Regions from separate parts of the Homo sapiens genome. Here all the other regions are reported to be linked to region 2. Evidence: microRNA targets listed by miRTarBase, many of them from high-throughput screens and not tested one by one. Region 2 holds a microRNA gene; each other region holds the end of a gene's coding sequence.

Evidence for each region. Region 2 holds the annotated microRNA hsa-miR-4698 (UCAAAAUGUAGAGGAAGACCCCA, at 4,122-4,144, opposite strand). A microRNA usually pairs through its seed, bases 2 to 8, with sites in the 3' UTR of a target mRNA and lowers its output. Matches are read on the target gene's strand: a 7mer-m8 pairs with bases 2 to 8, a 7mer-A1 pairs with bases 2 to 7 and ends in A, and an 8mer does both.
Region 1: miRTarBase lists ZMYM4 as a target of hsa-miR-4698. Seed matches in the 3' UTR shown: 7mer-A1 at 5,364-5,370.
Region 3: miRTarBase lists BDP1 as a target of hsa-miR-4698. Seed matches in the 3' UTR shown: 7mer-A1 at 1,150-1,156, 7mer-m8 at 1,236-1,242 and 8mer at 1,298-1,305.
Region 4: miRTarBase lists KCNJ6 as a target of hsa-miR-4698. Seed matches in the 3' UTR shown: 7mer-A1 at 5,481-5,487, 7mer-A1 at 4,887-4,893, 7mer-A1 at 2,598-2,604, 7mer-A1 at 1,915-1,921 and 7mer-A1 at 1,521-1,527.

What each region holds. Positions count from the first base shown.
Region 1 is chr1:35,418,455-35,425,577 of GRCh38, reverse strand. ZMYM4 (zinc finger MYM-type containing 4) reads right to left here. Exons shown (of 30, transcript NM_005095.3): 29 at 7,006-7,123; 30 at 3,520-6,108. The coding sequence ends at 5,901. Among named protein-coding and RNA genes, the nearest start is that of ZMYM4-AS1, 56 kb to the right of the region's middle.
Region 2 is chr12:47,184,881-47,192,003 of GRCh38, reverse strand. It overlaps MIR4698 (microRNA 4698), which reads right to left and starts at 4,192; the gene lies at 4,113-4,192. The region is part of intron 2 of PCED1B (PC-esterase domain containing 1B); the gene reads right to left.
Region 3 is chr5:71,563,850-71,570,972 of GRCh38, forward strand. BDP1 (BDP1 general transcription factor IIIB subunit) reads left to right here. Exons shown (of 39, transcript NM_018429.3): 39 at 905-3,971. The coding sequence ends at 1,036. Among named protein-coding and RNA genes, the nearest start is that of MCCC2, 20 kb to the right of the region's middle.
Region 4 is chr21:37,618,924-37,626,046 of GRCh38, forward strand. It overlaps KCNJ6 (potassium inwardly rectifying channel subfamily J member 6), which reads right to left. Exons shown (of 4, transcript NM_002240.5): 4 at 1-6,561. The coding sequence ends at 6,236. All of the region lies in intron 1 of KCNJ6-AS1 (KCNJ6 antisense RNA 1), which reads left to right. Among named protein-coding and RNA genes, the nearest start is that of KCNJ6-AS1, 100 kb to the left of the region's middle.

The sequences.
Region 1 (7,123 bases), not on the chromosome of region 2:
TGCCTCAGCCTCCCCGAGTAGCTGGGACTACAGGCGCCTGCCACCACGCCCAGCTAATTTTTGTATTTTTAGTTAAGATGGAGTTTCACCATGTTGGTCAGGCTGGTCTCAAACTCTTGACCTCGTGATCCGCCTGCCTCGGTCTCCCAATGTGCTGGGATTACAGGTGTGAGCCACCGTGGCCGGCCAAACTTATTTAAGAGTTTGTTGGCGGGGTGTGGTGGCTCGCGCCTGTAATCCCAGCACTTTGGGAGGCTGAGGCAGGAGGATTACCTGAGGTCAGGAGTTTGAGACCAGCCTGGCCGACATGGTTAAACCCGCCTCTACTAAACATACAAAATTAGCCAGGCGTGGTGGCACATGCCTGTAGTCCCAGCTACTTGAAAGGCTGAGGCAGGAGAATCGCTTGAACCTGAGAGATGGAGGTTGCAGTGAGCGGAGATCGCGCCGCTGCACTCCAGCCTGGGCAACAAGAGCGAAACTCCATCTCAAAACAAAACAAAAAAACAAAAACAAAACACAACAACAACAAATGTGTTTTCTCACCTTGCAATATTGATAACCTTTTTTGTTGTGATGAGAAGTTCCAGTTCCGTTTAGTGGTAATGTGACAGTGGGCATTACCGGTGTATTCGTTAGGATACTGGTTTGGCTACTTTAATGAAGAGGAAAAAAAAAGGCTTTAAATAAGATGAAAGTTCCTCTCTTATGTGAAGGTCTGAGCTAGTAGGCAGACCAGGAGAGACAGGTGGCTCTGTCCATGAGGTTAATGTACTTCTGGTATGCTGCCCTTTCCCACATGGACAAAACTGGTTTGCCATGACCACGTTCATGCTCCAGATCAGAGGAAAAAGGGAAGACAAGAGAGGAGCATGCATTTTCCTTTTAGGAGTGTAGCCTGGGAGATGTAAACTCACATCTGCTTCCATGCCATTGGTCAAAACTTCGTCCCATGGTCACTCCTAACTACAAGTTAGCCTGGAAAATACACTTTTTTACCAAGGGAGCCACTGCCTAGCTAAAACTTTTGGGGAAGGAGCAGTTCTGTTAATGAAGTGAAGCGTGGGGAGATTGCTGTTGTACCGTTGTCTTGTTCCTAAACTGATGACATATATAACCTACCAAGTAAAAGAAGTTTCATAGATTTAAGGTTTTTCTCCCAATTAAAAAATAAATTTATGACCTGGCATTCATATGCAAAGAAATATAAATAGGCCAGATGTAGTGGCTCATGCCTGTAATCCCAGCACTTTGGGAGGCCAAGGCAGGCAGCAGATCACCTGAGGTCAGGAGTTCGAGACCAGCCTGCCCAACATAGTGAAACCCCATCAAATACAAAAATTAGCCAGGCATGGTGGCGTGCACCTGTAGTCCCAGCTACTCAGGAGGCTGAGGCAGGAGAATCACTTGAACCCAGGAGGCAGAGGTTGCAGTGAACCAAGATCGAGCCACTGCACTCCAGCCTAGGCAACAGAGCGAGACTCCATCTCAAAGAAAAAAAGAAATATTAGCCAGGCGTGGTGGTTCACACCTGTAATCCCAACACTTGGGAGGCTGAGGTGGGCAGATCACTTGAGGTCAGGAGTTTGAGAACAGCCTGGCCAACATGGCAAAACCCCGTCTCTACTAAAAATACAAAAATTAGCCAGGTGTGGTGGCATACACCTGTAATCCCAGCTACTTAGGAGGCTGAGGCAGAAGAATCACTAGAACCCAGGAGGCGGAAGTTGTAGTGAGCCAAGATCGCACCGCTGCACTCCAGCCTGAGCAACAGTGAGACTGTGTCTCAAAACAAACAAAAAGAAATATAAAGAAAAAAACTAATAAACTCTATCATATGCTGTTCCTATATATACTGATATACATGCCCATTTCTTTCTTTTTTCTTTTTTTTTGAGACAGTCTTACTCTGTTGCCCTGGCTGGACAGTGTAGTGGCCTGATCTCGGCTCACTGCAACCTCCGCCTCCCAGGTTCAGGTGATTTTCCTGCATCAGCCTCTGAAGCAGCTGGGATTATAGGCACCTGCCACCACGCCCAGCTAATTTTTGTACTTTTAGTAGAGATGGGGTTTCACCATGTTGGCCAGGCTGGTCTCGAGCTCCTGACCTCAAGTGATCTGTCCATCTTGGCCTCCCGAAGTGCTGGGATCACAGGCACGAGCCATCGTGCCCAGCCCCATTTTTCAATATAGTGAAAATATCAATGGATTCTTGTGATGTTGATTACTATTGATATGCACATAAGCACAAGTGAAGAATTTGTAATTTTGTTTGATTCAAATATGTAGAATTGGTTATATAAATAGAGTATTATGTTTTGCAGAAGCCAAAGTGCTATACTTAGTAAAAATTCAGACTGTAGTGTGGGAATTAACATTTATTTAATGTGTTAGTACAGGCCAGGAAATTTGCATGTAATAAAAAATATCTGACATTTGAAAGCCTACCATGTGCCAGGCACAACTTAATAAGGGAGTTATACCCACTTTATAGATAACAAAACTGAGGCACAGAGAGGTTAATTTTTATTTACTTATTTTTTTATTTATTTTTTTGAGACGGAGTCTCGCTCTGTTGCCCAGGCTGGAGTGCAGTGGCACGATCTCGGCTCACTGTAAGCTCCGCCTCCCGGGTTCACGCCATTCTCCTGCCTCAGCCTCCCGAGTAGCTGGGACTACAGGCGCCCGCCACCACGCCCGGCTAACTTTTGTATTTTTAGTAGAGACAGGGTTTCACCATGTTAGCTAGGATGGTCTCGATCTCCTGACCTCATGATCCTCCTGCCTCGACCTCCCAAAGTGCTGGGATTACAAGTGTGAGCCACCGTGCCTGGCCTGAGGTTAAGTAATTTACCTAAAGTTATACAACCAGTAAGTAGAAACACTAGGCTTCGACGCCTATGATCTCTCCACTACATAGCATTGCCTCTCAATCACTATTCTCTTCAATGATGATAGCACAGTGTAACAGACAAGTGCTAGTCTAGAGGAGTTCAGGGTATGATTGCTTCTTTCCTAAAACTTCAACTCAATACCCTAGGAGACTTCTTTGGAAAATTAAATTCTGAATTCATTAATAGAAATTCATTTTACATTAGATCTTTTGGGAAAACCTGTTTTATAAATTTAGGATTGCCACAAGGCAGGTAGGTAGAAAGTCGATACGGAATTTGAAAGTACAGCTGCATAATACCAAGACAACTCTGAAGTCGAAGGAAAATGCTATTTAGTCTTACATTCCTGTTTTAAACATGTATTTATACTTAAGAATGAACATATCCTTTATTCTAGTCTTACAATTTCATTAAAGTTGAACTGATGTAGGCTTTGTAAATCTCAAAAAAGTTTGCCTGAAATGATATGTATAAATGATCTCTGATATTTCTACCTGTTGGGACTTTGAATATAGTCAGTAAATTAGCTAAAAATGGGAACAAGTCTTTTGATGGAAAAAAGGAAATAAAAGAACTTGCAATGAAAAAATATGTTGACTGGACTACATAAAAAAAATTTCTTTCTCGGAAACTGCTCTCTTTCTTTGTAATTTTACTAATTGCTGGGTCATACCAATAAGGTCAATCAGAAAAAGAGATTTCAAATTCTTTTAAGACGTAAAGAAGAAGAACTCACCCATCAAATACAAATATACTATTTTATTCTAAGGGAATATTTCTGTGGTTTCTGTAAGGGGAAAACCTAAAAGTGGTTAAAAACTGAAAAAGAACAAAAAGGATGATTTAGATGTTTTTGTTTGATGTTTTTTTCTCCCCTGGAAAAAAAATGTAATTTTACACAATTTTCATAAAATTAAAAAAGCAATAATCAGACGCACACATCAACAGCTACACTTATGAGGAATGACCAATAATTAATCAATATTTTCTCTTATGAATAAATTTAGGGTTCTGGGCAACTCTGTGGACTAACATGCAAATGAAATCCTGATACAGTCATTTATCTGGGTATTGGGTGTTCTCAGTAAAAGATACAGATTTTTTTTTCTGGTATTTCATAACAATTTATCTACTATGCTAACAATATTTGTTTTTTCATACAACTACAGAAGGGGAAAATGTTAGTGTTTATACAAACCATAAAATTCGTATAGTGGGGACTATTACACTTGCTATTTCTGGATAGTTTATTGGCAGACTTATCAGACAATCCAATTATTTGTCCTCCATATCGAACAAGGTATGGAGTAAGAAGTTTTCCAGTCAGAAATGACAAACACAGATGGAATTAATCATACAGAATCGGGGTGGATTTACTTCTTTCATACAGTTCTTGGTAACAAAAATGAGATTTGTTACAGGCAGAGGGACAGAACCACCAAGTACACAATGTCAGAAGGCCTACTTTTTTCATTTTAGTTTTACTTAAATGCCTTTTATTTGTTAAAAAAGAAATACACCTGCCACCCCCACCTAAAAAATGAGATACCCTGAAAAGTCTTTCAAGATTAAAATTTCTAAGAGGCTTTTTGACATCTCTCAGTTTTATCATAGCGTCAAATTAACCTTAGCTGAAGAAGTTCTGCAATTGGCAAACGTCATAAAAGCTTTGATTCCAAATTTTGTGGGGAAGAAACTGAGAATGGAGATGAGGGAGATGGACTGATATGCCACACACACCTATGACTTGCAATCCTCATAGAACTACTGAAACAGCTAGAGTTTGGAATAATGCTCTAAGACCTGCTTATGGATATGCAAGACAATGTCTTTGTATCCTCACCCCAGAATCCCTATTTTCAAGTTTCAAGGGCAACAAGGTCATCTTCCAAATGCTTTATATAGGAACCTAACTAGGACCTTTTCTATCATAATTCAGATAGCTAAGTAATACTGTATCTTTGTGGAATCACTCACAGGTTTGCCAGAGTAAGAAAAGAGACTATCCTTTTTGAAATGACAAGGGCCTCCAGAAACTGGTGCAAAAGACAAAATAAGAGGAACTGTTTGGGAAATAGGAAGGTAAAACAACGGGAGAAAAGCTGCCATTGGGGAAAAAAAATGAAAATAAAAGGAGAACCCCCATTTCTCTGTACCACAGCTCAGGCTGTGAGACAGCTGCAATAAGGGCCCACACCCAGAGAAGGGGCATTTTAGTGGGTTTCTACAAACATTTCAAGACACTTGGGGTCTGATAGGCTCCACAGATTTTCTGTGTGCATAATTAGTTTGTGGAATATCATCCCCTTTACCTTAGTTTACCCACATCCAGACCCACCGCTGAGAAGGCTTGATCCAGAAAATGAAAGGGACACATTACTGTTAACAGCAGTGAAGGTCATTTTCCCTGATGTGAGGGGCCCATGGCAAAAGCTTCTGTCCTTCACATGATTGGCTTGGCAGTGAAAATCAAAATCAATCAAGACCACTTCACTATCTTTTTTAAAAAGTTGAGTATTTTTATTGGGTCTTCAAATCTGGGTCCCACAGTCCTCATTTGATGTCACTCTTAGCTCTGTACTGATCTCTCCTCTGACTTTTACGGAGGGCTTGCCAAAGTAGCCTATTGCAGCCAAAGTTTCACTCCAAAGCTACCTCTCTAAGGTCTAAGGTTACTATGGTAAAGTTTTATACAACAGTTTTCCTTAAAAATATTCCACGATTTGTTACTCCCAAACAAAATAAGATTATGCACCACTCGGAGAAATTAGTCATTCTGAAGATGTCTAAGAACTATATCACTGCCAAAGAACATTTCTCAGTTCATATTCTTTCCTTCAATTTTCATTTGCACATCCACACTGTGGGGTTCACAAGTCATCTGTTTTCCATGATCTTATGGTCAAGTCAAGAGGACTTAGACTTATACATCATTTTCCAACAGCTGGATGCATTCACAGTTTGGTGCATACCAATATGTATGAAAATAAGAACCTCACTTCCGTTTTAATCTGATAATTCAACATCAGAGTCTTCAGATTTGGCTTTGGCAAGTTCTTCATGTACCTCCCTCACCATGAGAATACGTGTTAACATGGTGTCCAGGGTTCCAGGGTCTATCGGGAATGTGGAGTACCACATGGGGCTATTCGGGACACAGGAGCGCTCAGGTTGAAGGTAAAACACATCATTCCTTTGCTTCACACTTTCAGAACTATCCACAGGGGAAAAAAAAAAAGAGAAAAAAGAAAATTAGAAATCAGAGAGTATAGGAAATATGTACTATTCTTAAGTAAACTGAGGTTTTTGCCATTAAAAGTAATTAAAAGTAAGGGCAAAAACTGCAATTATTTTTGCACCAACCTAATATGGCTCTCAACCTTTCTCCACTGTGACTCACAATGGGGAAAGCAAGGTACCCACAGAGATAAATAGTTTACAGGAATATTTCCTCCCAGGAATCAACTGAAATCACAATGGATTGGAAGTGAGTATAAAGTTAATATAAGACAAAGTGTAAATCATAAACTTTAGTACTTCAAACATTATTAAGAGCAACAAAAAAGTCAACTCACATGTGACACTATGGCCAAGCACCACATATTGGAAGTGCCCAATATCCTGGAATGAACTCCAAGGGCACTCAATACACATTATCAAAGGGCAAATGAAGCTATTACATTTCTTTCAGAAAAAAAAGTGTTACAACTCTAAAATCATAAAGTTCCTCTAAGAAAAGGACTACTTAGAAAATTTCAATTCCTTAAAAATTGTTTTTCTATTATAGCTTTAGCAAAACAAAATTTCTTTTCTATACAAATAACAAAATAACTACAGATTAGGTATCACATAAAGGTTGTACAACAGTTGTAAAGATCAAACAATAGCAGTGATTCTTGCTTTTGAAGACATTTTCATAAAATAATTATGAAGACAAGGTAATTTGTTTTGTGGTTCAAAATCCACATAGATATGACAATGGGGAAAAAATTCATGGTAAATCCTTGTCTAAAGCCACGGGCAAGCTACTTTTCTGATGTTCAAGCATCTGAAATCCAAAATATGTTAACTGCCTTCTGAGTGCACTACATTCAGTTCAGAGAAAGATTACCATTTTGACAGGTAAAACTCATAAAGTCGGACTGGGCATCTTAGTGGATTGTCAGTATTCTCTGCCATCTCCACCCCCACTGGAACCTCATCATCTTCATTTCGTTTCCTCTTGCCAA
Region 2 (7,123 bases):
GGAGTTAATGAGGATGTACAGAGAGAAAACAGTCAATCATTTCTGTGGCAAGCGCCATGTTAGGTGCTCCTATAGAGTATCTAAAGAAAATGATGTCTGAGTTAGCTCAAGAAAATGGTAATGGACTCAGATTGGCAAAGAGAAAGGCAGGCAAGTGGTTCTCATCAGAATCACCAGGTCCTTAAAAAAAAAAGCACAACACAACAAAACAAAAAAACCAAAAAAACCCCAAAACTTTTGTGTCCAGGCCGCACCCTCAGCGATTCTGCCTCAATTCCTCAGGGTGAGCAGCCCAGGTGTCCAGCTTTATGAAGGTTCCCAGGGCAATCTATTTTGCAACCTGGGCTGAAAACCTCTGCTTTAGGGCAAAGGCTGGATGATGACTATGCCCAAGTCCTGGGTGGAGAGAGGCAGGCCTGCGGTATTTCTTCTTCCGGATTGCAATGGAAACATGACTTCCCCCAATTTGCCTAGGATGAGAGTAAAGTGAATGCATTGGGTTGTGAACATGTGAACGTTTGCCTGGGGAGGGTCAAGGTGAGGATTTGGGAGAAATAATCTTTTGAGATCTTATAGAACTGCTGAATGCTGACACTGGGGTATAGAATTAGGAAGAAACTTAGAGATTTTAAACAAAAATAGTGGTCTCTGAGGAATTAAATGTATGGAGTCGTAAAGCTGGCAGAAGATAAAGGAGTGAAAAAAGTCTGGAAACAGACAGCTCAGGGCTTTAGGGTCAGTGGTGTCCCTTTGTAAAAACTGCTTCAATTCAACCTCATTTGTAAATGGGCATACTCATAGTAGCCCTGTGTGTCTGTTGGGAAGGTGATGTCACCAAGCCTATATTATAAAAATCGTAAGATGTTCATTTTACTTCTTCCTCTTTCTTTGTCCTTGTCTTCCTCCATGCATGTTTGCTTGCACATAGTCATTTCGTTAGAGGGTAGTCATTAATAAGTGATTAACTTCATATCCTGACCCCCAGGGGCTGTCTGCAAGATTAATGAACTGGTTTTTCTTTTAAAGAACAATGATCCTTAGGTCATGGAGACCTCCTTGATGGCATCCAGAAGTTCGATTGGCTGAGGGACACAAGCAGCTTTCATCATCAGAGAATCTCACCTCCCACATATCTACCTTACTCGTAAAAGCCCCCCAGTTATGTTCAAAGACAGGTGGGGTTTGAGAGGTGCCTCTCGCACCCTCATGCTGTAGCCAATTTGAATAACCTTTCTGTGCTCCTAAGCACTGATGTGTCAGTGTTTGGCTTACTGGCATCAGGTACTCAACCTAAATCTGCAACAGTATGAGATAACATGCAGAGAGCACAGAGTGCCATGCCTGCCACGCAGAAACCAGTAAGCATGAGTTAGTGTTACTATTGTTGTTTGAAAGGATCAAGATTCTGTGTAAATGAGTCACAGGTATCCCAGATGCAGGATTTGCATAGCTGCTATAAAGAGGGTTTCCCACTGAAACTGGTGTAGGCATAAAGAACCCTGTGTTTCTCGTACAAAGGGAATTGAGAGAAACCACTTCATCCTTAACCTGCAGGGAGCTGGAGGAAGAAAGACCTGGAAGAGGCGACCAAAGTGAATGCATGGGTGCCAAAGGTTGGAGACCAGGACAAGGAGGAAGTGGGTTAGAACAGATGGAACTTGGGTGAGGTCTGTATCTATTTTGGAAACTGAAGCCCAGAACTGGGGCCACAATGGGGCAGGCTTTCACTTGCTCCCATTTATGAACCAACCAGCACCATGGGAAGAACGGGGTGGGATAGACTGAGAGACAACTGAATTGTATGCATTTTTGCTTTTTGGCTGATTATTCCAACTCAGGATTACACGAACTAATGCATGTGAAAGCATTTCCTAAATAACAAAACACTATGCAAATAGAGTATTAACATTTTTCTTCTGTGTAGAATTTATACCTAGAGATTCCCTCAAGTGATACTGAAGTAGTTTCTGCACTTCAAGCAGGTGTCTGAGCACAGTGCATAGAGGAGGGTCTGTGGGACTGGGAGTGGCCAAGGGAGGAGCCGAGCAGGGCTGGAAGAGCTGACCCAAGAGGCAGCTCTTCTGTGGATCCCAAGCCTGGAGCAGCAGAAGTTATGCTGAGGTTTTGCCAAACATCCCCAGAGTCTTCTGTTTGGAAGTTTCAAGGATATGCATTTTGTTAGTAGGGTTAGATGAGGTGAAAATGCGAAGCTGGTGATAAACGAAAGTTGTGCTTCAAGAGTTTGGCTCCTAGTCCATGTTTATTAATTGTTTGCTGAAATGAAGACAAGTGTGAGATGGTAATATAACACTAAAGTGTGCTAATAAGTCCATGGTGCTATGCTGAAAGTGCAAATAAGACCTTGCAAGTAAGTCCATGGTGTTTTGGATTTGATGTTAGCGGTAGCAGAAAGCCACTAATATAAGCCTTGAATGGTGTTCAGGGATCTTGTAAACTACTGAAAAGTGAGGAAATAAATGTATGTCCAAGGTCATTCATTTATTTAGCGGCCTTTAAAGAGGAACATTTTCACTGTGAGATAATAGTTGCTGTAGTGACTTATTTAAGCAAGATTACAGGCTCTTCTCTAAACAGGGCTGCACCTCTCCATTCACGGCACAAGAATGCACAATAGACTGGATTTTGAAATCAGTCTGCCTTCTGCTAACCAAGCCATGCACCCTAGTGTAGGGCTGCATCTCCTCAGAGAAAAGGACACATTTTTCCACTTTGCACAAAGGCATCCAATGGGGTAATGGCGGCCCTGTCTTGAACAATCTAAAAACACAATGCATGCTTTTCTGCTTAGACAACTTCTCAGGGTCACTTTCAGACACTGGGCTAAGAACCAATGAAACAAGCAATAAAGCTGAAGAAAAAGAAGATAAAAAACAATCAAAATGTAAGATAGAGGAAATGAAAAAGAACAGCAAAGTGAGCTGAATCATGAACAGCAGGAAATCTCGAGATAAGTGGAGGCTGTCCCTACATATTTCTGGTACTTTGAGTAAACATGGAGAGAAAGTTCACAGTGACCTAATCAGAAGCAGAAATGAAAATGGGGCAAAATGCCATGTGGGGGCATTTTGCAATAAGAAGCAACAGGAGTCTGGCACCTAAATCCAGCAACTGTGTAGCCAGGGTTGGAAAAAGTCCAGGTTACCAGCAACATGCCTGTTTTTTACGGAGAATGAGTGAAATGAATATGCTCCCAATGGTCCTCTGAGTTCTTCACATTCATCCCAACTCCCTTGCTCCTCTGCTCCAGCACTGCAGTGGAACTGGATGGCTACAGCTTACATTGCACGTTTCAATTTGGGCGATGGATGAGAACTTCTGTACTATGTTTGCATCTGCAAGACTCTGCTACTCTTGTTTTTAACTTCTGGATGTTCAGGTACACATTGAAAAAAGGAAGTCCTTAACTCTGAGAAGCAGTATCGTCCTGAAACTACCTAAGAAATGGCTCAAATCCTTTCAATTTCCAAGGAAAGCAAAAGTTACACATTAGAAACTGAGATGACAATACCTAAGCATATAATTTCATTGAGATAGATTAGATTAGCTTCAGGGACATATATGGCTCACAGTATATTCCATGCTTCTCCATAGGCCAGGAAGATTTGCAGCTAACACCCTTCCTGAATTCTTGTCCCTATAGGGCTTTTGTGTGGGACATCATTGATCCCTATGAGTTCCAGCTGAGGAATTTATGACATATTCTATTCCCCCCTGAGATTAGCCTTTAATAATTTATTTATTCATCCAACATTTAAGAGACCCCAATGGTGTTAGATGCTGGGAACCCAAAGACAACTAAGGCAAGATCACTGTCCCCAAAGTCCTTAGTAAGGGGAGATAAGACATGTAATTTTTAAAAGCCACAAAATGCTATGGTGCCATGACAGAGGTATGTCTGGGGAACAGAAGGGACTCCAAGAAGGAAGAGGTGCTTCCAGGTAAGACAAACTGTGGAAATAAAGCAGCTATAGGGCAAAGAACTTGTTGCAGTCAGGAAGATGCAGGTAGATCAGGTGACCAATTACAATCCTGTTCTTGGAGCTGGTAGGATAAAGGACAGACCCAGGTGGAAGAGGCGCAGGTGAAAGTTTTGCTCCTTCTGGGGTCTTCCTCTACATTTTGACCCAGGCCCGTCTAGGTGGAAATGTAGAGGAAGACCCCAGGAGAAGCATAACTTTCCTTTAACCCATATATCACAAGACTTGGCTGCCTTATGATGAAGCTATAGTTCCCAAATATGTCTTCAATGAAGAAAATTTAATGTTTAGGAATTCTAGAACTTGCAGAGTTGGGAGTTGCCTGGGAGATGAAATGTTCTCTCCATCACCTCCAGCCCTTGGTGCTGAGTTCATTAGCATGTTTAGTTCTAATTTTAGCTATGAAAAAATATATTTTAAAATATTGACACATTTATTATTTAGTGCTGGATTTAACTGTTTACACTTTCACTGATAAAAGATTAAAAATATGTCTTACTATATACTGCTGCCTATAGTTAAAACAGCATCCCTGTTTCTCTTTTTCTCTCTTGTTCTCTATTTTTGAAACTGAGTTAATAATCCCCTTGATGTAGAGATGGGGGATTTTCATCAGTACCAGATCATTTCACCTGCCTTTTCTCCTCCCTGAGATTTCCAATTTCCTGGTGCTTCCTTTTCACTACATTTACCACCCATTTCTTGGTTTTAGGTAAGATCCCATGGTCTCTCCCTATGAACACTATCTCTCACATAGTGTCAGCATTTCTAACTTCTTACCCTGGAGCTATCCACCTGGATCTTTCACCTAAACTCCTGAGTGCTTCTGGAGAAGGTAAAGATCTGTTTTGAGATGAATCTCAAACACTGTTAAGTAGGGCAGCATTTCTAAAGTCCACAGAGCAGCACAGTGGTCCACCTTCAAGTGTGATAGGCACTACCCACTACCTCCCCAAGAGCCATTTTCCCTTCTTTCAGTGTGTTCAGGTGGTAAGGAGAGATCTTTGCTTCCAAGGAGAGTGGTCCCCGACTCCAGGATAGGCCTAACCAGTCATGGAAATCTCCTTCCCTTTATCAATTGGTTGTTCTTGGTTTGGGCATTTGACCTTGTTCTGGCCAATAGGATATAAAAAGAAATCAGCTGGAGATATCCTAAGTAAAGACAAGATTTTGTGCTGTGTTAATTTCCTTGGGCTGCCATCACGAAGTATCACAAACTGGGTAGATTACAACAGAAATGTAGTATCTCACAATTCTGAAGGCCCTCAGACTGAAATAAGGTGTCAGCAGGGCCATGCTCCTTCTGAAAGCTGTAGGGGAAAAAACCTTTTCTTGTCTCTTCCTGGCTTCTGATGCTTGCCAATGAAGGGGTTTGGATTATGCCACCCCACAATATGCCACTCTGGCATATGGATTATTTTGACTTGAAGGCAACTGAGAAAAAGCAGACCCAGGATGAGATCTCTGTCCGCCTCCTATCTGCCTGAAAACAGAACATAAGCTCCCCTTGTGAAAGTGCCCCCCTCTACCCCCCTACCAGTAAAGGGATAACATAAAGGGACAACACCTTATCACTGGAGACAAGATGTCATCCAGAGGAATCTACAAAAACAAAACGTATTAACTAGCCCTCATCTACCATAAGTTTCCCCATATATTTGCCTTCCCACAATTTGCTGCCCCTAGAAGCTCAAAGTCATTTTCCTTTGTCTTGCCACTTCTCTACAAAATTATTGTTCTTTGCTCAATTCTATGTAAGTTCAAGTTCTTTTTTTTTTTCTTTTTTTTTAGACGGAGTCTCACTCTGTCACCCAGGCTGGAGTGCAGGGGCGCGATCTTGGCTCACTGCAACCCCTGCCCCCTGGGTTCAAGCAGTTCTCCTGCCTCAGTCTCCTGAGTAGCTGGGATTACAGGGGCGTGCCACCACATCTGGCTAATTTTGTTATTTTTAGTAGAGATGGGGTTTCACCATGTTGGTCAGGCTGGTCTCAAACTCTTGACCTCGTGATCCGCCCACCTTGGCCTCCCAAAGTGCTGGGATTACAGGTGTGAGCCACTGCACCAGACTAAGTTCAAGTTCTAACCACTCCTTTGAATTACTTATTACTGAATACTCCTATGTGTATGTGCAATGCATATTTCAATAAACTTGTTTGTTTTTCTCTTGTTAATCTGTCTTTTGTCAGTCTAATATACAGTCTTTTTTTTTTTTTGAGACTGAGTCTAGCTCTGCTGTTGCCCAAGCTGGAGTAGTAGTACCACGATTTCAGCTCACTGCAACCTCCACCTCCCAGGTTCAAGCAGTTCTGCTGCCTCAGCCTCCTGCATAGTTGGGATTACAGGTGCCTGCCACCAAGCCCAGCTAATCTTTGTATTTTCAGTAGAGATGGGGTTTCAACATGTTGGCCAGGCTGGTCTCGAACTGCTGGCCTTAAGTGATCCACCCCCGTCAGCCTTCCAAAGTGCTGGGATTACAGGTGTGAGCCACCGTGCCGGGCCACTCTAATATGCAGTCTAATTTTCCCTAGCTGGAGAACCTAGGATGGGTACAGAAAAGGTAATTATTTTCCTCTCCTACACCAGCAATACTTGGCATTCCTCGGCTTGCAGCTTCAATACTTCAACTTCTGCCTCCTTCTTCACAGGGCTGTCTTCCCTCTGTGTGTGTCTCTGCCTTCACATAGCGTTCTCTTCTTGTGTCTGTCTCTGTTTTTTCTTTTTGTAAGGACATCAGTTATTGGATTAGGGCCCACCCTGGTTCAATATGACCTCATCTTAACTAATTACATTTGCATTCCAAATAAGGCCACATTTGCAGGTATCTGGGTTAGGATATCAACATATCTTTTTTGGGGACACAGTTCAATCCATATAAAGGCCTTTTGCTCCTGCCTTTCATCTACCTGGAGATGCAGCAACATCTTGTGACTATGAGGCTACAAACATGAGGAAACAAGTTTACAAGCTAAAGCTGGTGGAAAGGAAAGCTAGGGAAAAAGAAGGAGTCTGACAGCATTACTACACAGTTGAACTACTGCCAGCAACCACTCACCTCTAGACCTCTTGCTAGGTAAGAAAAATAACTCCAGGTTACTTAACCTCTGCCAGGTTTCTTTCACCTGTAG
Region 3 (7,123 bases), not on the chromosome of region 2:
TGCAGTGGGCTGAGATCATGCCATTGCATTCCAGCCTGGCTTTGTCTTAAAATAAATAAATAAATAAAAAGGTACCCTTCCCCACCTACCTCCGTCCAGAATTATAAAAGTGTTTTTCCATGGCATTTTTATAGTAGAGTTTTTTAAAAAATACTTTTACATTTAAATCTTTTGATCCATCTAGAATTTGTTTTGGTAAGGTATTGGTCTGACTTTTTTCCCCCTGAGATGGTTATATAGTTGTCCAACATCATTTATTTAATAATACAATAACTGTTTTTGATATGGCACTTTTATCAGATGCTAAATTTCTATATATATTGGGGTTATTTCTAGTCTTCTGTTTCATTGATATATCTGTCATTCGTGTGCCAATACCATGCTGTCTTAATTTGTTTATAGATTTGTAAGTATGCTAATTTCTGATAAGGTATCTTTGATATGTTTTCTTTAGGTGCTGTTTTGTCATGGGTCTGTCTATTATGCAAATAATTAAAGTATTTTTACTTTATTTAGTGACAGATTTAACCATATTATATTTTTCTTTATTAAAATTTTTCATGGAAATTAGGATGAAGTAATGGATTATGGGTACACTGTAATTTACCTAATTATATCTAGTGTGGTATATTTAGTTGCTTCCTATTTTATTATTATAACTAATGCTACAAAGGTTATCTTAGTCATAAAACTCCTACTATGTTTAGGATTATTTACTTAATGTAACAGCATAGAAGTGAAATTTTTGGGTCAGTGATTGTGAACATATTTAAAGCTCAATATTTATTGCCACGTTGCTTTTCAAACAGATCATATTGGTTTAGACTGCTATATATACACACACATATATATATAAATGTTGTATTACAGTTTTATTTTTACTTTATTTTTATTACCTTTTTAGGTTTCTTGTGATCAGCCCTTACTGAAAGAAGGATATAAAAGTGCCCAAAAGCGGGCCCCTCAAGGGGAGGCAACCACAGTCTCTGAATATTTCTTCAATGATATCTTCATTGAAGTGGATGAAACAGAATAAAACAATCTTTTCTCTTTTTCTTTTTTAAATTAGGTCTAGGATTTCCAGAGTCAATTACATCAACAAAACAGTATTTAGAGCAAAATATCACTGTCTTATTTTTCTTTAGGTTGATTTTGAATACTTAATGAGCTTGATTTGAAGCTTTTATAATCAGTGGAAAACATTTCTGAGGTTCCTTTCATTCTGACTGATTCAGCATTTTGCAAATAGCAAGCAATTAAGACTGCTTTCTCAGACAGAAATAACAACTCTTGTTTACATTTTGACTCTTCCTGTGCTAAGCACACATGGACATTTGGGAATGTTGTGGATATATGTCTCTGTATGAATTGCAGTGCAGACAGATTTGGGGGTTAATTGTATCATATTTAACATTTAGCAACTTCTTTTGTGAAGATTTTTTATTTTTAGGGGGAGATGATGAAGGATGAAGGCTTTTTCATTTGCTTCTAAGTACAGTCATGTATCACATAATGAAGTTTAAGTCAATGATGGACCACATATATTACAGTGGTCCCATGCAATTAAAATGGAGATAAATTCCTATCAACTAGTGACATTATAGCCATCATAACACAGTGCATTGCTTTTTTATGTTTAGATATGTTTAGATACACAAATACTTACTATTGTGTTACAACTGCCTACAGTATTCAGCATAGTAACACATTGTAGAGGTTTGTAGCCGAGGAGCAATAGGCTATACCACATAGCCTCAGTCTGTACGGTGTGTAGCAGCCTGTACCATCTCAGTGTTTGTAAGTACACTCTGCGTTGTTTCACACAAGATCACCTAACAAGGCAATTCTTAGAACATGTAGTTAAGGGACACGTGACTATATGTGAAAACAAATTGTCAAACTTCACTTTAGTATGGCAAATGTTAAAGAACTTTTCTATTATCAGCTGTTTGTCTGACTGAAAAATACATATTTTTCTAATTCATGGTGATGTAACATTAGTCCTAATTGAAAAACTAGTATTTAAACATAATTATTTATAAAGATGACACATCAAAGGGCTTATTTATTTTTAAATTTTTTATTTAAAAGGATATTCAGTTTTAGCTATTTTTACCCCTCAGATTGTAGATAAAGAAGGCATTAAATTTATGTTTGTCTCCTTTTTCTGTTTAATTTTAAAGATATTTAAAATGATATAACTAAAAATGTTTAGCTGGTGTATATGTTTTGAATACCTTTTTCCCCTCAGTTTAGTATATTGACTTTGTACTGTAAATTTTTCTGCTTTTCTTGGATAATCTCAGGATTTTCATGAGGATAGGGGGAACTCAACTTTATTTATGAGACAAAATTTCCATACAAAGCTCAATCTCCTTTATACACCCACAGACATAATATTAGTTTTTAAAAAGCCAATTTCTTCATAGTTTTTTCCCATTAAATTCTCAAGGAACACTTGGATCTTTAAGCACGGAACATAATCATGATGTTAAAAACAGAGAAAATAAGGCTTTATAAAGTTAATGATTATCATCAGTATGAATTTAAGGTTTGTTTTAATTTCAAGATTTGATTTTTTATACGTGTAATTCTATTATCTACCCAAGCAGATCTGTAGTGGTTCCAATTAGACTTCTCAAACAGCAAATTTATCCTGATTTTATTTGAAAAGCCTCTTGGATTGATAGTATAGTAGCTCAGGCATTGGAAACTTTCTGCAAACTGTTTTGGGTTTGCAGGCCAGATGGTCTCTGTGGCAGCTACTCAGCTCTGCAATTTCAGTGTGAAAGAAGCCATAGACAGTACTTGAATGAAGGACTGTGGCTGGATTGGCCTTTTAGTTTGACCCCCTACATTAGGCCCCAAATTTTCTTACCCTGAGGTGCTGATATCTGTATGGATGAGTTATTTGTCACTAAAGTTATGAGTTGTGCCTAAAAGTTAAAACTGTTGACTGTATTATGTAATGATCAGTATTTCAGTTGGGAAGATATTTTAGAGTCTAGATAATTATGTTTGTATATTGAAAAAATGGTGGCCAGTTTTTAAGTTCCTTAATAGAAGAGAATTATGTCTCAGCACATATAACAGTAATGCTAATTTATTGAAACTACTGCTGTTAGAGCACTTCTTATTCATTGTCTTTTAGTGAAATTTATGGCGTAACACTTTGTCAGAGAGGAGGCTATATAATTCGGAGCGGAAATTGTCTATAAGTAGGCATTTATTTCATGATTGATATGTCACAGAAATCATGGTAGTAAATCACATTGCTATTTGAATACCCTGTTTTTGTAAGTTTTTAAAACTCATATTCTGAAAAGATTTCATTCTCTTAGTGTTAGCTTGGGAGTTAGATTGCCATGATTAAACTATTATTTATCCTTGTGTAATATTAGTTTTTAACTTTAACATCTGTTTCTTTTTAATCTATAATGAGCTAGTTTTATGGAAAATGGAATTTCTTACTATATAAAGAATACAGAGACTCATTGTATTAGAGAATCAAGTCAGCCAGCTAAAGTATCCTACTGTTAAATCCTTAAACCTAATTTTGGAAAAGAGAAAGTTAATCAATGTATTTACCTTACATGTTGGAAAGAACTATGTTAGGTCTGATTCATGTGAAGAAGATGTTGCAAAGGATTTATTTCACAAATTTTAAAGGAGATATGAGTAAAAGTTTTTATCTTTTCTTGACTTTTTCTCCTGAACACTTATGTCTTAGCAAGTGGTCAACATGAGGATTTGAACGCCTAATTGTTGGTAAATGGTTGAGGCATGACAAAAATATTAATATCCACTGTTTACCATCATGTTATTTGAAACAAAAGTGACCATGTATACTATCTTGCTTGAAGAAGTCTTTGACAGAAAAAGCAATATCATGTCATTTATAAATTTTCTTGTTCTAAAGAAAGCAGTTATATATATATATAAATTATGTAAATAAAAGTTATTTTATATCATTTCTGTTGTGTCCTTTTAAGATGACTAAATAAAGAATTGGCTGGGTATCGTGGCTTACACCTGTAATCCCAGCACTTTCGGAGGCCGAGGTGGGAGGATTGCTTGAGCCCAGGAGTTCAAGACCAGCCTGGGCAACATAATGAGACCTCATCTCTACAAAAAAATTAAAAATCAGCCAACTGTGGTGGTGTGTGCTTTTGGTCCCAGTTACTCAGGAGGCTGGGATGAGAGGTTCGCTTGAGCCCAGGAGGAGGTTGAGGCTGCAGTGAGCTGTGATTGCCCCACCACACTCCAGCCTGGATGACAGAAGAAGACCCTGTCTTTGTGGGGAGGAGACAAATTTTTGACAGGTGTGCATGTCGTTATTTCAAAGCTGTAGGAGTCTGCAATGTGATTGTCCTAATAGTATTTGGAAGAGACTCCACACAGCATCTCTGTTTGCTGCAGCATCGCATCCTGAATCTGCTGGAGAGCCCTGTCTTACATTGGGTTTCACTAAAAATCGGCAGTCTTACGGGCTACCCAGTAAGTAGGTTGGGGTAGTATTCCCAAATATATTTTATCTCAAACTCAAAGGGCGACTTCAAACATTGTTGCTTCTGTCTTCATGGTGACCAGTGCAAGGTGCAGAATCTTGTCTCCCTCTCCCCACTGCCTTTGTTTAAGAGATGGGGTTTCGCTTTGTTGCCCAGGCTGGAGTGTGGTGGCGTGATCATAGCTCACTGCAGCCTCGAACTTCTGGGTGCGAGCAATCCTCCCAGGTAGGTGAGCCGTCATGCCTGGGTAGCTTGTTTCTTCCCTTCAAAAATAGATCCCATGTCCTCAGACCACTAGACCCTTAGGAGATTCACCTATGTGGCAGGCTCCTGAACTTTAACAGTATTTACCTCCCAACCTCTTATATATGTATGTCTTCCTAAGACATCTAGCTGCTTGCTAATTCGTGCTTTCCAGCTCCAGTTAGCATAATGTTATACATGTCACATTTCATTTTTTTGTCAAAAATCAAGAAAATAAAAGTCTCTCCAGACTATATAATGAAAGAAAATGAGGGTATTCATATCACTCTGAAGTAAGACAGTAAAATCAGTTGTCCCTGCCACAATAATTCAAGTTCTTTTAATTTTTCTTACTGGAATGGAAAATGTTGCATTTTTTTCATGGCACTAGCTTTATTCCAGGTATTAGGAGTTGTGTTGATTTGGTCTAATAAAGGTACCAATCGCCAACTGCAGCTGTGATTGACATCATTTGTTAAATCTGTGATAACTTATTGTCATTCCCCAAGACCAGTGGTTCCCAAACTTTATTGCACATCAGACTCACCTGGGAAGCTTTAAAAAGTTTCTGTGTCCAAGTGGTATCCCTTATTGTTAAATCAGTGTCTGGGTGCAGTGGCTCATGCCTGTAATCCCAGCATTTTGGGAGGCTGAGGCGAGACATAGCGAGACCTTATCTCTACAAACAAAACAAAGCAAAAACTAGCAGAACATGGTGGTGTGTGCCTGTGGTCCCAGCTACTTGAGAGGCTGAGGCAGGAAGATTGCTTGAGCCCAGGAGTTCAGGGTTGCAGTGAGGTATGATCGTGCCAGCCTGGGTCACAGAGTGAGACCCTGTTGCTAAAAAACATTAAAAAATAATAGGGCCAGGCACAGTGGCTCACGCCTGTAATCCTAGCACTTTGGGAGGCCGAGATGGGAGGATCGCTTGAGCCCAGGAGTTTGAGACTAGCCTGGGCAACATGGCAAAACCCCTTGTCTACTAAAATGCAAAAATTAGCCAGGTGTGCTAGCACGCGCCTGTGGTCCCAGCTACTGGAGAGGCTGAGGTGGGAGGATCACTTGAGCCCAGAGGTGGAGGTTGCAGTACGCTGATATTGTGCCACTGTACTCCAGCGTGGGTGAAAGAGGGAGACCCTGTCTCAAAATAATTAGAAAACACACACACTCGCAGTGCCTGGGGGTGGGCGTCAGACATCTCCATTTAAAAAAAAAATCTGCAGGTGATCCTAAGGTGTAACACCAACACCAACACACAAAACAAAAAAATGTGAAACATTGTTCATTCGGACCTGTCTGACTTGAACAGCTGGCCAAGCTGGTGAATCAAATGGAAATGTAGTAGGAATCAACAGATCCCACTCACTATGTGGGTCAGAGAATGGGGGTGGTTTAAACCTTCTACTTGGCCTTTCCTTAATGCCTTATCTCATGGGTTAAGGAAACTGTGTGATGATTCTGCTATATCCTACTTCTGTGTATTCTGGGACTGAGGAAATAATTACAGGATGGGCTCCTGTGAGAAGTCAGACCAAGAATCCATCTTTCACGCAACCTCCATTAGCCTTCACTCTGAAAACTGGATCACAGAGGCTTTTAAGGTCTCTGGAAATCAGTATAATTTCAGAGTCACTATCTTAATAACCGTGAAATAGCTGAGTATTTTTGTTTCCCCAGTGCAAAGACCCTGATGAATAACCATAGTTCTCTCTGCAGAAGGCTTGGGGGAAGATTTATGGTATACCCATGAAGCCACAATTACAAAATCCTTCCTCAGAGGCTCCCATCTGCCCCCTCAGTCAAGGGACTTTGGGTCTATAACCTGATTTATTTAGTCTGGAAACTGGATATGAGGCTCTCTCCACTATGGAGACTTGAGTTTGGTTCTTGCACAACAGACCTAGAATTGTTTTGTCTATAGGTGTCATGCAACACTTTAGAAGGCTGTCAGTCTAACAGGAACCTTGGGATCAATTAGCCATCATCACAGATCCCCACATGTAAAAATACACTATGTCAATCCTTTGCTATGGCTTATTACAGTAATTGTGCCTACCTGGTCTAAAACAGTTCGGCATTGCTGCCTGGCTTCTTCCAGTATTCCCAATGAGGTCAAGGGGCCTAATTCCTTGGCAGTACCTCTCACCATCATCTCCAGTCTGCAAAGGACAACCATCATAGTGGCTGCATCAGCTCTTTAAAGAGGCTGATGCTTCTGTTACCAAGACTTTAAAGAAAAGAGTGTCCTCCAGGCCCTCTTGGGAGTTATGGTTAGGGGGTGTCTGAATAAGATGCACATAAATACAGCCAGTCCCCCTTTATCAGCAGGTTCCATATCCTGAGATTGAGCCCATCAAGGATCAGAAATATTT
Region 4 (7,123 bases), not on the chromosome of region 2:
TTTAAGTTTTATGGTGTTGAACTTTGAGATTTGTTTCCTCCCACTTAGTTGTTTCCTCCCACTCTTCCATGCAGTTGAAGGGTCACAAGCTTTTTGCATGATCTATATTGTAGATACCATTACCTACTTAGTTTCAGACGCAGGATCAAATCCATCCTTTATCTGTCGACAATATAACAACATCACAATGATTTGTTACATTGTTACTTTTTTTTCTTTCTCATCTGATTTCCAGGAAAGCACTCATAAGAGAACTTGATATGTTTTTCCATAGAACTAAAAAGATAAGGAACCTAGCTTGGCTGACTACCTCTGGCATTAGAAATGCTTCCTTAGAAGACAAGGGAGTTCAGCTTAGTGACACAAAGAATGCCATTTAATATTGACTCATCTAAAAACCCCAAGGTCTGGACTTTTTCCATCCATTATGTCTGTAATTACCAATCTTTGTCTTTGCTTCAGACTCAGAAAGCGCAAGAAATCCAACAACCCTTTACTATACTTCCGTGTCTCCCTGAGCTCTTTTCAAAGGACCTTTTGGTTTTCCATAAGAAGCATTTAGTTCTTTAATTACACATTAAACTTCTAGCTTAGTGGCTAGAGAGAGCAAAAACTAGCGCAATTAAACATGAGCTAGTTCCAGGTTCACGTTCATCACCTTGATCAGTTGTAAACTGTAGGCTAGAGAAAACTAGCAAGAAAACAGAGGGAGACATCTGGGCCACCTATTTAACTCTCCTCCAAGAGAGCCTAAGAGAGAAGCCATGTGGAGGAGCGAGGCGGGTTTGATGTGTGGCAACCACTGCAGGTCTGGGCTGCTTTGCTGAGCAGAGACTGGCAGCCTGAGCTATGTACATCATCCAACGCCTGAGGGTGCCACTGAAGCAATATTTCAGCGGCTGGGCTGGGAATGCCCATTTCTCTGTAGTTCATTAAGGAGTAATTTTACTGTATCCACTTTCTGAGTTGACCGCTAGATCCTGGCTGGCTGTTGACTCTATTTGCCACTCTGGAGGAATGGCATGAAAAGGAAGGATTCTTCCTTTGAGACCCTAACTGAATGACTGGGCTCTCTAAGTCTTGTGAAGCAGTTGTCTCTTTGACAACCGAAAAAAAAGAGTTATGTTATTTTGAACAGACTTATGAGTGACTTCAATAATTTATGCTAGAAAAAAAGTCATTCTTCTATATTGCCTAGGACTCTCTTAAGAGTACAGTACAATATTTCATAGTACTTAGTACTCTTACATACTATTATTAATAGTACTATTACTAGTACTTAATAGTACCAATAGTACTTAACAGTACAGTACAGGGGTCAGCAAACTTTTTTTATACAGGGCCAGATAGTAAATATTTCAATCTTTGCTGGCCACACGGTCTCTGTTGTAATTACTCAGCTCTGTGAGTGCATGTGGAAGCAGCCATAGGCAATACACAGACAAATGGCTGTGGCTGTGTTCCAATAAAACTTTGTTTGTGGACATTGAAATTTGAATTTAGGATGATTTTCACATGTCTCAAAATATTCTTCTTTTCTTTTTTTTCCCCCAATTATTAAAAAATGTAAAAATTGCTCTTAGCTCACAAGTGGTACAATAACAGGCAGCAGGCCAGATTTTTTTTTTTTTAGCAGATTTGGTTTGCTGAAATTTTTTGTAGTAAAAATAGCCCACAGCTTAGGGCCCTGTGACCTGGATTTGAGACAAGGAGCTATGATTCACTGGCCTTTAAACTTGGCCAATTTGCCCAAACCCTAGTTTTCCCTCTATAAAATGTAAATTATAATACTCAACCTCTCATGGTGAATTAGAATGAAATAAGATAATTTGTACAAGTGCTCTTAATGCTCTCAAACACCACACCATGTTGGGTAAAATATTGTTGGGTTATTATTATATATTCTGTGATTTATCAAAATCTCTTAGCAGCCTTCTGACAGAATTTTGACTTCTAGATGACACTCTGCATCTAAAGCACTCAAGACATTAAAGGCAGAAATATTAGGAAGAGGCGTGCTTTACTCAATTTTAAATTAAAGGCTAACATTTTCTTAGATACCGGTTGGCCATAAAGTTCAGAAACAAGATAATGTTATTTTAGTGTATTGTAAAGTAATATCAATGAATCATCTATTATGTATATGTTACCTATGTTTTTCAATGTTAAAGCCATCCATTGAAAGGAAATCATCCTTGAAGATAATGTTTACAATATATAGAGGACACTGAACTTTCAACTACCTTCCTGACATTTTTAAATCATACAGAGTATCACCCAAGTCAAGGAAAGAAAGACTGAAGAGTAGCCAGACTATTAGCAAACTGTTTTGGAAATGATTTACTATGAGTATTTTAATTGTATTCTCTCAGCAAATCAAATGATTTCCCATTCTTCTGGTGAGTTCAGGTAGTTTTCTAATAGCATTCTTATGCCCCCTTTCTCTGTCCACCAGTTCCCACCTTTGTAAGCAGTTTCTAAATATCCCAAAGACACTGGCTTAAATCTAAATAAAAAAGCAAAGGGGAAAAAAGTAAGAAAACTGAAATGTAAGAAAATGTAGGGATGGAAAGCATAAGAATGTTGCTCTGGAGAATTCAAAATTTAGACTATTAAATGAAGTCATGAATAATTTTTAAATTGGAGTGCAGTGAAAAATAGACATTTCAGAGCCCTAGCTTGGTTAGACCTGCAAGAGAAAATTGTGCTTAAGAAATAGGTTGACATTTGCAGCTGGATTTCTGTTAGGGAACATAAGGTACTGAACTAAAACAATAGAATTGGAACTGGAGAACCAGGGAAACAGCAAAGGATGGGGATAGATGGAAGAACGGAGTGGGGGAAGAGAGAGTTCTGCCTCATGGACATAGAGGGGATATATGCTGGAACAACCAGGCTGGAAGGCCATGTTTGAAGGAACAGAAAAGTTGACATTTGCTATGTTAATGTAAAAGAGTATAGCTTACCCAGGGGACAGCTAAAACAGAAATGATTTTATTGGTTCCATAAAGTTGATTTATAAATGAATGGGTGCTCTTCCAGTTGGAGAGCACGTTGGGGTGGGTGGAGGTGAGAATCCGAGGAACTCAGCAGCCTTGTGGTGGGGGGTCATGCTTGCAGCTGAACCTGCCCTTCCATCCAGGAGCACTTTGTTCTGTCAAATTGGGGTCAACTGTGGCAAACCATAACCCTTAAATTCCAAATTCTTATCTGGCTCACGGATCCCACCATGCTTTATGGAAAAATGACTCAAATACATTAACCAAACAGACCAAAGGATCTAGTTGAGAGTGATCTTCATTAGTTATGGATACTGTTGTATTAAAAGAGACTTTTAAAAAATTCTCATTGCACTTGGTTTGCTAATGGAGTGACTGAGGGAATGAGGACTGGATATTGCGGAATAGAATGAGTGGAAATTGTGGGGTCAATTTTGTTGAGCTGTCTTAATGGAAAACACCATTCACTCACTACTCGCTGCTTAGAAAATCAGTCTCAATGAACTTTCAGTTCCAAATTTTAACAGTTGACACAAAATACACTGTTAAACTGTGTTAACAACTGTAGAAAAATAGACATGTTTGATAGGGACATTCTAGTAAAAGGTTCTTCAGGAGCATCCCCATGTAAAGATTCAGAGGCTCACATTACAAAAACGAGATTTGGTTCAAGTTCTGTCTCCAACTACATTGACAACAAAGACAGTGAGAAACAGGGAGAGACCTCACATCTGGGTGCCCGTCACAGACACAGAACTGACAGGTGCACGTGGCCAACGTGTTGTCAAGGCTCTTCGTTCAGTTGTGCTAAAGGGCAGGCAAGCAGGGATGAGGCCCTGAGCTGCTTGCTCTTCCAACCAGACACGGGGGTGTGCGCTGTCCTTTAAACCTTAGCAATGGAATTAAAAAGGCCCAGTGAGTCTTCAAGAGCTAAATTAGAAGACATTTTGCCGCCCCTATTCCATCTTGTTTTGTGCCTGCCATGGCCTGCCCTGCGACCCTGGCAAGGTTGCAGGGGAGCTCCCCAAGCCAAGAGTGCCCTTCATTAGGCTGCAGAGAGGTCAAGCCATGGCTCCTCCCCGCAGCCTCAAGGGGAGTGTATCGAGCTTCCTCCTCCCGGACCACCACCTCCTTCTTAGAGTGTGCGAAATAAAGAAATGATTCAACAGAGATTCAATGCAAAAAAGGAAATGCTGGCAAACAGGAAAGGGCTATAGCCAACAGTTTTGTTTTCCTTAAAGTCAGTGCCAAGAGGCAGTTGTCCTGATCCAAGGTCTCTGAGATGGGAGAAGAGAGGCCCCGAGGTTATATTTAGGAGCCACTTTCCTTATCCTGGGACTTCTTTTTTAGTAGACAAGGTCCCCAGACTACACCAAAGGCCTGTGCGATCAGGTCAGGGAAGGCAAGGGAAACAAAGAGGGACAGCTAGTTTGATCTCTTTGACCTCCATGGTGCAGAGCCTCAAACTGAGCACAGCTGTAGGAGCTGAAAATAAACTTGGATCCATTCAATGAATATTTATGATGGGCAACTGTGTTAAAGAACAAACAGCTTATAAATGCAAAGTGAATGTGAAAGATCTGTAACAGTGCAAAATCTCCACCTGCCCCGGAGGTTTGATCTAAGATTTGTTTCCTTATTTTTTTCATTTTAAAATTCAGATTTCCAGTACAAATACCCTTCCTTCCTTCCTTCCTTCCTCCCTCCCTTCCTCCCTTCTTTCCTTTTTGCAGATTAAAGTGAATTAAGGCTGGAATTTTTTTATTTGTTTTCTTTTGATTGACAGACACTGGATTTGATTTCTAGCCTGTGGCATACTCTAGAGACATTTCTTAGACAATCATCAAGATTGTTGATCTAATCTTTGAATACTGAACTCTGGTCATTTCAAAATAATAAAAGATCACAATGCAAGAAATGCTGATGGATAAGCCCCAGGGACAGGCGAGATGTCATTCTCAGAAAGCCAGATAGAGTCAAAGTGAGAGGTCGATGATTATAATGCATGCCACTCACTACATGCCTTTGTGAATTTCACGGCTTTAGACCCAAACCATCTTCTGCTAACTTACCATGTCTCATTGTAAGAGTGTAGAGAAACTACAGCTGGAGAATCAATGGTTTTGCAGAAAAGTTTCCTAAATTATTGTACTACAAAGGGCAAGAGCTCATGTGAAAAGTAAAAACATACCTTTGGTGACAGGCTAGAGAATATTTCCTTCCTGGTATTCCCCCTCCTCCAGGCCAGTTAGTGAGGCCCTTGTTATCTTTTAAAAAAAGACATCTGTTTTGTAACATTTCACAGTATATCAGCATATTGGTGGTGGGTTTTGCCATCTACCAGACCTCTCAATTTCCCCCAGACCTATGGCTTGTTGGATTCAATGAAAGGATCCGTGTGGGAACAGTGAGGTACCCTAACGTCTGCCAGTCTGAGACACAAACAAAGGCCATGCACTGAAGGGCCAGCCGTCAACTGGATCAAAATAACCTGGAAAACACAGACATCAAAACAGAAATGCCTACTGCATGTTAGGAATCTTTCTTTCTTTCTTTTTTTTTTTGCTTCTTATTTCTAAAGTTATATATCTAAACCTACATTAATGATACATCTATGTACAGTATTTAGCAGTTCTGTTCTATGGTACTTTTGTACATGCTGGGTTTTATTACTAATTACAAAAAGAAAATAATTACATAAGGCATATATATGTACAGTGGTTTGTCTTCAGCTCACCTGGGCCCTGTAACTGCCACACCCACATGGGGGCAAGCACCTCACCCTGTAGTAGATGAAATGAATTGGGATCCATAAAACTGAGGGCTCCACTCTGTGTCTCACTGAATGAATAAATAGGCACCAGAAACCTTGCTTGTCATATCCCAGGTAAAATCTTTGACACACCTTTTTGAGTGATCTGGTATTGTACAACACATGCAGGTAAGTAACTGAAATCTCCAGGAGTTGGATGTGTAGTATTTTGGGAGGAGACCAGGCTTGGGCCACAAATGAGGGCACTTTGCACTTTCATCAAATCCATGTCTACCTTGTCAATCTGAATAACTGAGAGAGGGCAGGTAGATATTTTACACCTTGAAGATTTGTTTTCTGGTCATGTAAAAATTAAATATAAACAAATAAAGAACAAAGCAAGAGAGACAGAAAAAGAAAGAGAATGAGAGACAAGGAAAGATTGTGTTGGGGGGAGAAGAGAAGGGTTTGCCCAGCTAGGGCACTAAACTTTGGATTCATTCTCCAGGTTTGCCACATCACCATTTCTTTCTGTTTGCTCTTCGAGGTTCTTTTCTTCCTCTTCAGTCTCCAGTTCTGCATGTTGGTTGAGTTTGCTGGATACAGACCAACTCAGGGGCAGCTCTGCCCTGCTGGCTAACTCGGCCAGCTCTTTGGCACTAAGGGATGGGGTGCTGGTCTCATAGGTCTCATGGAAGCTGTTGTAGTCAACTTCGTAGAACCCGTCCTCCAGGGTCAGGACAGGTGTGAACCGGTAACCCCACAGGATCTCACTGGTGATGTAGGAGCTTCGAGCTTGGCATGTCATCCCTGCAGAGAGAAGAATGGAGGCTTTAGCATATGTAAGTGTGGGCTTTCCATGGCCAAGGAGTCACAGAGAGCCAGGAGGAGTACTGCATGCAGCTGTTGAGACTGACCTGCATACGATGCCACACTTAGTAGGTGTCATTCATGTTGTAGACACATGCTAATGTGCCATGGAGATTCCAGGCCTCTTAAGGGAGTCCTGGGGAACAATGAGAGAGTCCTGGCCCACATCAAGCCACATTTGCCTGCATGGCCATGCACATGCAAAGGAAATCAAGTGTGCAAATGCACACAAGTTTTCGCATGTGCATGGCTATGTCTGGTCCACTCTGCTCTGGGAGAACCCTGAAGCCATGACTCTGGCCTCCTACTGCTCTTGGAGGTTTAGCCTGGGTTCTAATGGGATTTGAGCTCTTTGGCCACAGACTTAGAATGAAATTTCATATATGGAACTACACTTAGGCTGCTTTTAAGCTAGAGGCCACAGATCAGTGTTACCCTCCCACCTGCCATTAACACACAGGCCATGACTGTGGCTCCAGATGCAGTTGGAAGGGTCACCCAC